2 separate regions of the Homo sapiens genome follow, and region 2 is linked to region 1. The links come from fine-mapping of genetic effects on gene expression. A gene starts in region 1. The other region holds a variant in brackets. All regions are shown on one strand. Distances are from middle to middle.

Region 1 (5,387 bases):
GCCCCCACCTACTGATTCATAATCTACATTTTAATAAAATCCTCAGATGATTCATATGTACATTAAAATTTGAAAAGCACTGATGTAGATGCTAAGGGCTTTACATGCAGGGAGGATAAGAACAATGTCTACCTTGCTCGTCGTTATATCCCTAGAACCAGCAGTGCTTGAAACATATAAATATTTGTTGAATAAATAAATATGTAAATGATACCACTTCTGGGTAGACAATTAGGCAGTGGAGATTATATCTATTTGAATTATTTATTTTCTGCCAGAATTCCCAGAAGTAGGTGCTTATTATTTGCTGTAAATGCTGTTAAATTAGCTTAATAACAACACTGGGCCCCTGAGAATCTACAACTATATGTAACTTTTTTAAAAAGAACTCCTTCCTTGCTCTTAGCTCTGAGATCCACATGCCTCCTTCAATAATTTCTCCAACCTCCTCTCTGTGGGTATGGCCTATAGTTACTCTCTCTACAATCTCTCCCTGAAACCAAATCCATTCTCAAGATTTTAACTACCACCTGTGAGAGAAAACACTATTTAAATTACAGTCCATGCACTCTATCTGCCTATATTTTCAACTCTATTTCCTGCACCTCACCTCAAATTTAACATGTTCAAAATTAACTTTTTTTTTTTTTTGAGACAGAGTTTCGCTCTTGTTGCCCAGGCCGGAGTGCAGTGGCCTGATCTTGGCTCACTGCAACCTCTGCCTCCCAAGTTCAAGCGATTCTCCTGCCTCAGCCTCAGGAGTAGCTGGGATTACAGGCGCCCGCCACCACACCCGGCTAATTTGTTGTATTTTTAGTAGAGATAGGGTTTCACCATGTTGGCCAGGCTGGTTTCGAACTCCTTGGCCTCAGGTGATCCACCCGCCTCAGCCTCCCAAAGTGCTGGGATTACAGGCGTGAGCCACCGCGTCCAGCCCCAAAATTAACAATTTTATTCTCTGTCAACTATCGTCCTCTCCCAGTCCAGAAGAAAGTAACTAGCTCTCCATCCTCACAGTCTCTAGTTTTACAGGCTTTAGAGAAGAGAGATCAGCTGGCCCAACATCACCTTATGGAGAATAGGCTCTAGAAGAATTAAATGACAGCCAAGAGGCTAGTTATTGGCAACCTCAGCACTCTACGATCTAAATCACTTTATTCCCAGTACACTATTGCATGCTGGAATTCAACAGAATTCCCATTTTTGCCAACAGCACTTAAACTTACTTTTTAGAAACGCAGGTTAAAAATATCATCACCCAGATCCAAGAAATCAAGTCCTGCGTATTGTTCTTTCGGCATTTCCCCGGTTCCTTTCTTCTTCCTTGTCAGAACACCCTGCACTTCCTTTCCACTAAGAGTTCTTTCACCGTTCAATGCCAGCCTTCCCAAATCCTCTACCCTCACTAAACTTATGTCCACAAATAGAATCGCTAAAATATAAATGCTTATTCCTGCATTTGATATCTTTGTCCATGGCCCAACAGAGATGGTTTCCAATCGTTCAAACCCTATTTATCCTCAGAGTCTAGCTCAAACACAGCCTTTTCTACTGGGCTTCCATCTGCCCAATTTCTAATATACTGCTCTATCATTCACTTTGTCATTTGTTCACAGCTTGATTTTTACCGACTGGAAACGTGCTATCTTCAAAAGCATAAAGAATCTGATATATCATCTAGGTCCTTTTTTTTTTTTTTCCACATCTGACAAAACTGAAGCCAAGAGAAATGTGGCTTACCTCATGTTAAATGAGAAATTGTAAATTTCAGGCCGGGCGCGGTGGCTCACGGCTGTAATCTCAGCACTTTGAGAGGCCAACGCGGGCGGATAACCTGAGGTCAGGGGTCACTACCCTAACCCGGCTACTACAAGAGTCTCGATCGTCCTCCAACCTTTCATCTGTCCCAGGATTAAGATTTCACCTGATGACACGCCCAGAAGTGCGGGAAGGACTGGCCAAGTGGAAGTCTACCACGCGATGCTCGTGGACTGACTGAGGAGTACCCAGCCCGGAGCGCGCTCAGCCTGTGGCCGGCCTCCTCACCAAGGGGTAGGCAGGTGCCCAGAATGCTGGAGGATGCCCGGTAAGGGCACCCGAGTCGCCAGCGGTACCTGTCTGAAGGCGCCCACCCATCCCCGGGTACCGACCTGAGCCTCCCGTACCTTACCTCACTCAACAGCAGGCTGCAGCCGCTCCGCTTTACGGCACTCACAGCAACCGCCGCAAAAGCCGCCGTCAAGTGCTGAGCGGCGGAGGCTGGCTTGGTTCCTGCTGGGACGTTCCCACGGTCCAGCCCCAGCCTCGGCTTTCCTGTGACTCTTGTCGCATCCTCACCGCCAGAAGTTCACTGAGCCCTGGCGATTCCTCGCTTTTATAATCTAGCCACTTAGCCAAAGCCCTTTTTTATCTCTTGCCTAATTGACAACTACAGCAGCGCACTGAGGCAATCTGAGAGTTTAAGTTCTGAAACGCTTTCGACAGCGGAAGATGAACTGGAGGCAGCAGCTGAGCCGTTTTCCAAGCCCGTTAAATGTGAACTTCTGATAAACGAGTGGTTTTTTTAGTGCGTGTGCTTTGCTAGAGGGATTCAGCATAACTCCCTGAAGTTTGGTTTGGATACAATTAGTAGAGCTAGGGGATAGAGTGGAAAATAGCAGCTGCGTTCACTATTCCTCATGAAGTTGAGGTGCCTTTATGACATTCAAGATTTAGCGACCTGTTGCCCTCCAGTTTAAGGCTGGATACAATTTTGTACCTGATTAACTTTTTTCTTTTCTTTTTTTGTAGAGACGTTGGGGGCTAGCAGGGCGGGGTGTGGCGGGGGTGGGGGGGAGGGCGTCCTCACCATCTTGCCCAGGCTGGTCTCGAACTCTTGGCCTCAAGCGATCCTCTCACTTTGGTTCTTTTAACGGTGTAATCCAAAAGGTGGTTGTTAAGGCTCAGATATTAATCTTCTTATAAATTTTTGAAAACCATAATTCACTAAACCAGTTACTGTAATTATAATTTATTTCTACAAAACGGAAAATACTCCCATCATATATTTGTTTTCTAAGCTTTGTTTTTAATTCTATCAGTACAGAAAGAAAAGGAAGAAAAAATCTTCCTCACTTCCTACAGGTTATGACATTTACCAACTTTTTGTTTTTCCTTCCAGAAATTTCCTATGCACATACAAGCTTACTGTTGAAGTCCTCTCATCCAATGCACTCAGAACGGGTAGGTACTCAGTAGGTTAATAAAAAAAAGTGGAAGGTTACACCAAGAGGAAGTAAGTTATCAAAGCTTAATGGCATCATTAACACAGGTGCTAACGTGATGGGACATGGGAAAACTTGAGCATCACATACTTGCTATTGATTGAAACACATCAAATATAAAAATTCTTGAGTTTATAATGACTCCTTAAAAAATAAAATTCAGTCGTGATTGAAGATTGCCAAGTTGAAGATTAAATATTCTAAAACTTGATAAGGGAAAACATCAAGCATTTATCCTGCCTTTCTTGTATGAATTGAATTTTAGTGTAACCAAAGTACTTATAAGAGTTCCAGCTAATAAATGGAGGATGATAAAACAATCACGATTTTGTAACTCCTAATAAAATAATCGAAAGGGCAACATCAATAGATGATAAAATTAAGGTGAAAGGTTGATGGGGAACTTTATAATAGACTGGCATCACCTAAACCCACTGATCTTAATCTCACTAAATTTGGGACAAGCATATATTATGTACTTCCTGATGTGATAGAAAGTACACAGCCACACCTGTGAAGGATTCTTGCCTAAAAATTGAACCTGCATTTACTCAAACTCTAGATCTAATACAGGATATAGAGAAGCAACTAAATTCAGAAAACGGGACATTCTACCAGACAAATTCCTCAGTTTTTTTCATAAATGGCATTTAAAAGCAGAGGGAACTATTGTAAAATCAAATATTTAAGAGATGTAACGGAGTACAATGTGTGGACCCTGTCTAGATCTTGATTTGAACAAGATAACTGTAAAAAGATACTTCTGAGACAACTGAAATTTTAGTATGGACTGATCCATTAGATAATAGTACAGAATTACTGTTAATTTTGCTAAGAATGTTAACAGAATGTGGCTGTTTTTAAAAGCCATCATGGATGCATATAGCATACTTACAGGTGACATTTTAAAACAAAATAGATAGCACAAACATGGCAAAATGTTAACAATTGATTAGGTGATGAGCACAAAGCACTGGCTTTCTACTTTTCTGTATATTTGGAAATTATAATTAAAAGTAACAGGAAAAGGGAAAAATTATCAGGTTCTTAGAAATAAATACTTTCCAAGTGTATAACAAATCTAGTTCTGAATAAACCTTCTCAAAAAGGCAGTTTCAGTAGAGGGTTACAATGGCCAATCTTCTGTTTTGAACTAAGTTCATTTTAAGCATGGACCAGCTGATTAGAGTATCTCACTGTTTTTCTTACAAAACCATAGACATAATGCATCATCCATCATTTGTAGTTTCTGTTTCTGTAAAATGGACCAGGAACTTAAAGATACAAGTGAAGGAATATAAATTTGGAGTCCTGGAATTTATTTTTAAAAATCTTCCCCTATCACTCACAATTACTTTGGCCACAACTAACTTTGCAACTTTTTAAACTCTTCATCTCTAATGGTTCTCGTACTTTTCTTATAAGTACCTTTTCATACTCATTTCATATTTATTTTGGTTTATATATTTATATAATTGGTTTACATACTTACATGACTACAACAGTGACTACCACCTACATAAGCAGGTTTGGGAACAAACATAACTGAAGGTAAATATACAACTAAACTGGTGGCAGTGTTACTTATCAAGCATACTGAAAGGTCAAATGTGAGCCCTCAGCTCATGGCAAACGTCAAGTCAGTATGCTTTAATCTGGATAGCAAATACAGCTGAAAGAGTGGGTACAAGGATGCATAAAAACAGCCTCTCTTACAAGTAAATATTCATGTTCTATAAACCACTCAGCTGTGCACACATGTAAGGATCCTGGCCGACTCCTAACATTTGTAGGGTCTGGGCCAAGAATACAAATGAAAGCCAACCCTGACATATTTTCAGTGTCTAAATAGCTGAGCGTTAACCAACAAATAAAATGTTATACTCTTCTACTTTAACATGTATTCTCAAGGAACAGAAATCTAGGTTCAAATATGCGATTCGCAGATTCTTCAGAAGTGTACTAGAAAGTGATACTAGGTTGGCCTGCCCTTCCCTGATCCCCTGGGTCTCTTTTTACTTCTAGCTTAAGCCTGCCACAGGGGCCTATCATGCATGCATGTGGACAACTCAGTCTGCACATCCAAGCTTCATCTGTACTTCCCACAAACTGCCAGCCATAGGG
Region 2 (5,387 bases), 38 kb before region 1:
TTTAAAATGTATCAGTGAACCTGTACTTTCTCTGACTGCTCTCTCTATTTACTAAAAGGTTTGGGAATGTTGTCAGAATGTTGTTGGTTAATACCGATAAAGGAAAACCTTTTATCCAACTGAAGCTACTACGGCTTTAAATTTTTTGCTGAAATTGCTTTACAGTGTACAGATGAAGACTCCTAATAAATGGCAAATCTGAAAAATATATGTTTCTCTAAGTATCATCACATCTTATAATGTTAAAATGTATGAAAGATCACCCCTGTTGCCTTTGGCTGTTAAAATACTGAATTTTAAATCTCAGCAAATTACTTCAACCACAAGATGATAAATCAGGTCCAAGTATTAGGTGTATGTGTTTCCTAAGGGTGGGATGGAGGTAGAGAAGTGTTACAGAGAAGCATACAAAATACCTCTTTTTAATTTAATCTAAAATCTTTATAACTGTGACTGGGTAGTATAACTTCCAAGTATATCATGCTTACCTTTATCCTCAGAATACCCTAAATTCACAGAGCAAAACAATTGCTATTTTTAATAAATTAAAAGTTTACATTGACACTTATAGACTAGAGAGCTGGGGAGCCTGATAATAGGATATCCCAGACTTTACTTTTAAACAGTAGTTCAAAATCTACTTGGTGTTAGCAATGATCTAAAATGACCACTGCTTGGTGATCTGAAAATCCACTTCTAATTTAAAGTGTTCCACATCTCTAGTTATAGAGAAGCCAAAGATTGAAGTGTATCAAGAAATATCTGGTCATTCCCATAATGTATGCTAACAGAATAAATGTTGTGTTTTATTAGTAACCCAGCAATGTTTTTCTTTCTAAATTTAGTTTTAAAACATAGGAAAATATATTTTATCAATGTGTAGGTTCTGAAATTTCTAAAACAAAACAAGGATATATTGTATATATTGCTGGTTTCCCCTCATCTTATAAAGGAATAGGTTGAATAGATTTTTATTCCTGATCATTACTTTTCCCTTATTCAAATAAATCTGATTCATATATTCATTCATTTAGGGAAACACCATAGCTCAGTGAATGTGGGTTTTAGAGGCAGACAGAATCTGGTCTTACCAAATTATCAGCCAACTAAGTTTAATCTCTCTAAGTGAATTGAGAGTAACAATATTTACTCACTTCTTAAACTTTCTATAGGGACTAAATAAGACATTGCATAAAGCACTTGGTAAAGGGCCTGTCCCTTACCTGCCACTACCAACCGGCCACCCACCACACAAGGTAGCTATTATTATTGCCATCATTCAACAAATACTTACGGAGTAAATGAATGAACTAAATGAACATTATAATTGAGAAATTTCTTGTTTATTCTACATACCCACTGTGTGCTATCAAATCCAATTCGGCTTCCTTTGGATTTTGACAAACCAGCTCCATTCTAGGAAGACAACAAAAGAACTTTTTAGTAAATTCAAAGTCCAGCATGCAACATTACATTTCAGTTAGGCATGAGATTCAAAATATAATTAGCTTATAATCATTAAAAAGCATTATCAAATATCTATTTTTCATATAGTCATGAGCTAAGAATTCTACATTTTTATGATATAAAAATCCAAGATGGAAAACATCGATAGATTTGTAGTAAGTTAATTAAGTTATTAAATAATAAGGTAGACATGGTCAACATCTCTGAACCAATTAATTTCCATCAATGAATGGCAAACTCTTTGGAATTAGGGTTTGTCTGTTAAGGTCTATGTCTATATCTGCAATCTCAACATATTGCCATATATAAAATTAGTGTTTGTAGACTTTGGCAAAGTGATAAAGTATACTAATGTTTATTGAAGAGCTCGTGTGTTTGACACTTCCATATATCAATTATGTATACTCATTGATCCCTCACAACAATCCTGCAAGGTAAACATTATTATTTGTTTTGCAGATAGCACCAGTATGCACGCTTTGCCTAACATACATCGTAATTTTGAATGTTGAAGTTTTTATAAAAGATATTTCAGGTCTAGAGCATCAGAAGAAAATTATTATGAGTTTTCATCTGGTAGCCCCAAAATACTTTAGAGTAAGAGGAGAAAGAATGTCTGATGTTCTAGAGACAAAAGGAAGAATGTTTCAAGCGTAATGAAGATCCAAATAAGTTTCTTATGCCTTGAGTGCATACGTTATCTATAAGCTATAGATGGGAGGATGCTGAAGAACGATTAGAGTAGTCTCACCCTAAAAATGAAATGTGCTCCAAGTTCCTAAACCTCATTTCCCCATTAAACCTCACATTCAAGGGGAGGGACAAAGTCCAATCCATCTTTGTATAACCAGTAGCACCTAGGATAGTGCTTGATGATTTTTATAGCTTAGTAAAGGTTTGTTAATTGGAAGGGGAGAGGAAGGGATGGAGAGATGAAGATACTAAGTAATTAAGACTGAGCCAGAATTGGTCTCTCCTCACAAGCTCTGCAACTTAGCCAATAACATTTTAATACTAAGGGATGTCTGAGAAAAAAACAACTGTAATCTTGAAACCTGAAAAGAGACTGCAAACATTGTAATACAGCTACTTGTTCACCTTAGTCCTACATTAGTTGATTACAAATACAGCTCAGCTATATTTCTGAGCTGTTCAATTTGTTGAGTTTGGGATAAGCAAATTTCTAGTGAGCTAGCATGTTATTTTTATATAGCTTTATTGAGATATAATTCACATACCATAAAATCTGCCTTTCTAAAGTGATTTTTAGTATGTTTAGAGTTGTGCAACTATTACCACTATCTAATTCCAGAAT[A/G]TTTTAATCACTCCAAAAAGAAACTATGTTCCTATTAACAGCCACTCCCCTTTCCTCCTCCACTCAGCCCCAATCATAACACTAATTATCTTCTCTGTGGATTTGCCCATTATGGACACTACATAAAAATGGAATCATATATGTGGCCTTTTACATCTGGTTTTTCACTAAGCATGATGTTTTCAAAGTTCATTCATGCTGTGGCATGTATCAGTACTTCATTTCCTTTTATGGCTAATATTCCATTGTATATTCATTCATTAGTTGATGAACATTTAGGTTATTTCCAGCTTTTGGCTATTATGAAAAATGCAATCGGAAATATTCATGTTTCACAATCATTCTCTTGTATACACTGACAACTTTCCTCCATCTGACTTCATTTTATTTGCTCAGCAAAGGCCAACTTTCTACTTATTCTGCACCTGCAACTGTGCAGCTAATGTGGCTGCTGACTGATATCACTTTATTATTATTACTATTATTAATGAGACAGGGGTCTCTGTTGCCCAGGCTGGAGTGCAGTGGCGTGATCACGGCTCACTGCAGCCTCAACCTCCCAGACTCAAGTGATACTCCTACCTCAGTCTTCCTAGCAGCTGAAACTATAGAGGCATGCACTACCACACCTGGCTAATTTTTGTATTTTTCATAAAGACAGGTTGTCACCATATTGCCTAGGCTGATCTCAAGTGATCCACTTGCTTCCGCCTCCCAAAGTGCTGGGATTCCAGGTGTGAGACACCATATCTGGCTGATGTCAATTTAAATTCATGACTACTAATCCCAAGTGGGGCTTTAATTCTGCCCAGAAATCATACTACATTCCCCTTGTGTATTAACTGTCTCATTCTCCTAGATGACTTTTCCCCCTTTTTTCTAACACCTCCCTATCCTATCTTTCAACTTATGGCATTGCTTTCTATTTCACTGAGAAAAAAGAAATTTGAAAATAATTTTCAAAAACCCCCACCACATCTTCCCACCTACTGTACAAGAATTATATCCATATAATACACCTTCCCTTCTGTCATAACAGATGAATTGTCTATGTTCCTATCTAAGGCCAGCCTCTCCACTTATGCACTAAATCCCATCCCCCCTTGACTGGACAAAGACATTGCTCCAGCAATTTTTCTTTCTCTGATGGATCATTCCCATCAGTATACAAACATGACTATTATTTATTCCATCTTAAAACACTAATAATTAAAACAAAACACAAAAACTTCTCAACTCCTCTTTTCCCAAAGAACAACTTTCTGTCCCCCATTACAGCAAAACTCCTAATGGGTTGTCTCTTCTCATTGCCTCCAATTCCTCTCCTCCCATGAACTCACTTCATTTTAAATTCACTCTGCTGAGCATCATCAAGATCACCAATGACCTGAACATTGCTAAATCCAACGGTCAATTATCAATACTTATCTTATTTGATATACCAAGAATTGTTGACAACCTCTGCCTCACTGAAACACTTCATTCACTTAGCTCTCTGTATCACCATATTTCTGTTTTTTCTCTGTTTCTCTCTGGCTGCTTCTTTAACTTGTCAGTTCTTCCTACTTCCCTGATGTGTTGGAGGGTCCCAAACCTCAGATGTTGGCACTTTCTTTCTCCCCCTTTAAAAATCTATATTCACTTCCTTAGTATCTCATCTAGTCATATGGCTTTAGACACCATCTATATGCTTACAACACTCCATTTGTACTCCCAACCCACTCTACCCAGACTTATATAGCCAATTGTCTATTCACCTTCTTCATTTGAATGTCAAATAGGCACCTGATGTGCTTTGGATCTGTGCCCCACCAAATCTCATACTGAATTGTAATCCCCAGTGTTGGAGGCAGTACCTGGTGGGAGGTGACTGTATCATGTAAACAGTTTCTCGTGACGGATTTAGCACCATCCCTTTGGTGCTGTTCTTGTGATAATGAGTGAGTGAGTTATCCTGAGATCTAACTGTTTAAAAGACTGTAGCACCTCCTCCCTCTCTCTCTTCTTCCTGCTCCAGCCATATGAAGTGCTGGTTCCGCCTTCACCTTCTGCCATGATTCTAAGTTTCCTGAGGCCTCCACAGAAGCCAAGCAGATGCCAGTATCATGCTTCCTGTACAGCCTCTAGAACAATGAGACAATTAAACTTTCCTTTATAAATTACCCAGTCTTAGGTGTTTCTTTATAGCAATTCGAGAACAGACTAACTACAGAAAATTGGTACCAGGAAAGCAGTGTTGCTGTAAGGTGTCTGAAAATGTGGAAGTAACTTTGGAACTGGGTAATAGGCAAAGGGAAAGTTTGGAGGGCTCAGAAGAAGACAGGAAGATGAGGGAAAATTTGAAACTTCCTAGAGACTTGTTGAATGGTTGTGATCAAGATGCTTATAGTGATATGGACAATGAAGCCCAGGCTAAGGAAGTCTCAGATGGAAATCAGGAATGTATTGGGAGGTGAAGCAAAAAGTCACTTTTGTTATGCCTTAGCAAACAACCTGGCTGCATTGTGCCCTGGCCCTAGAGATCTGTGAAACTCTGAACTCGAGAGTGATAGTTTAGGGTACCTGGAAGAAGAAATTTCTTTTTTTCTTTTTTTTGAGACAGAGT

Evidence for each region. PIP is the estimated chance that this variant, and not a neighbour inherited with it, causes the effect.
Region 2: its variant is the best candidate, but not a certain one, in a credible set for the expression of FKTN in whole blood (TOPMed, PIP 0.89).

Annotation. Positions count from the first base shown.
Region 1 is chr9:105,554,949-105,560,335 of GRCh38, reverse strand. It overlaps FKTN (fukutin), which reads right to left and starts at 2,205. Exons shown (of 11, transcript NM_001079802.2): 1 at 2,171-2,205. It overlaps FKTN-AS1 (FKTN antisense RNA 1), which reads left to right and starts at 2,030. Exons shown (of 3, transcript NR_184141.1): 1 at 2,030-2,566; 2 at 3,161-3,222. RefSeq lists enhancers at 1,945-2,134, 2,295-2,344.
Region 2 is chr9:105,592,627-105,598,013 of GRCh38, reverse strand. FKTN (fukutin) reads right to left here. Exons shown (of 11, transcript NM_001079802.2): 4 at 1,357-1,416. Among named protein-coding and RNA genes, the nearest start is that of FKTN-AS1, 37 kb to the right of the region's middle. RefSeq lists an enhancer at 4,370-4,909. The variant A/G (reference allele first, on the strand shown) is at 2,783.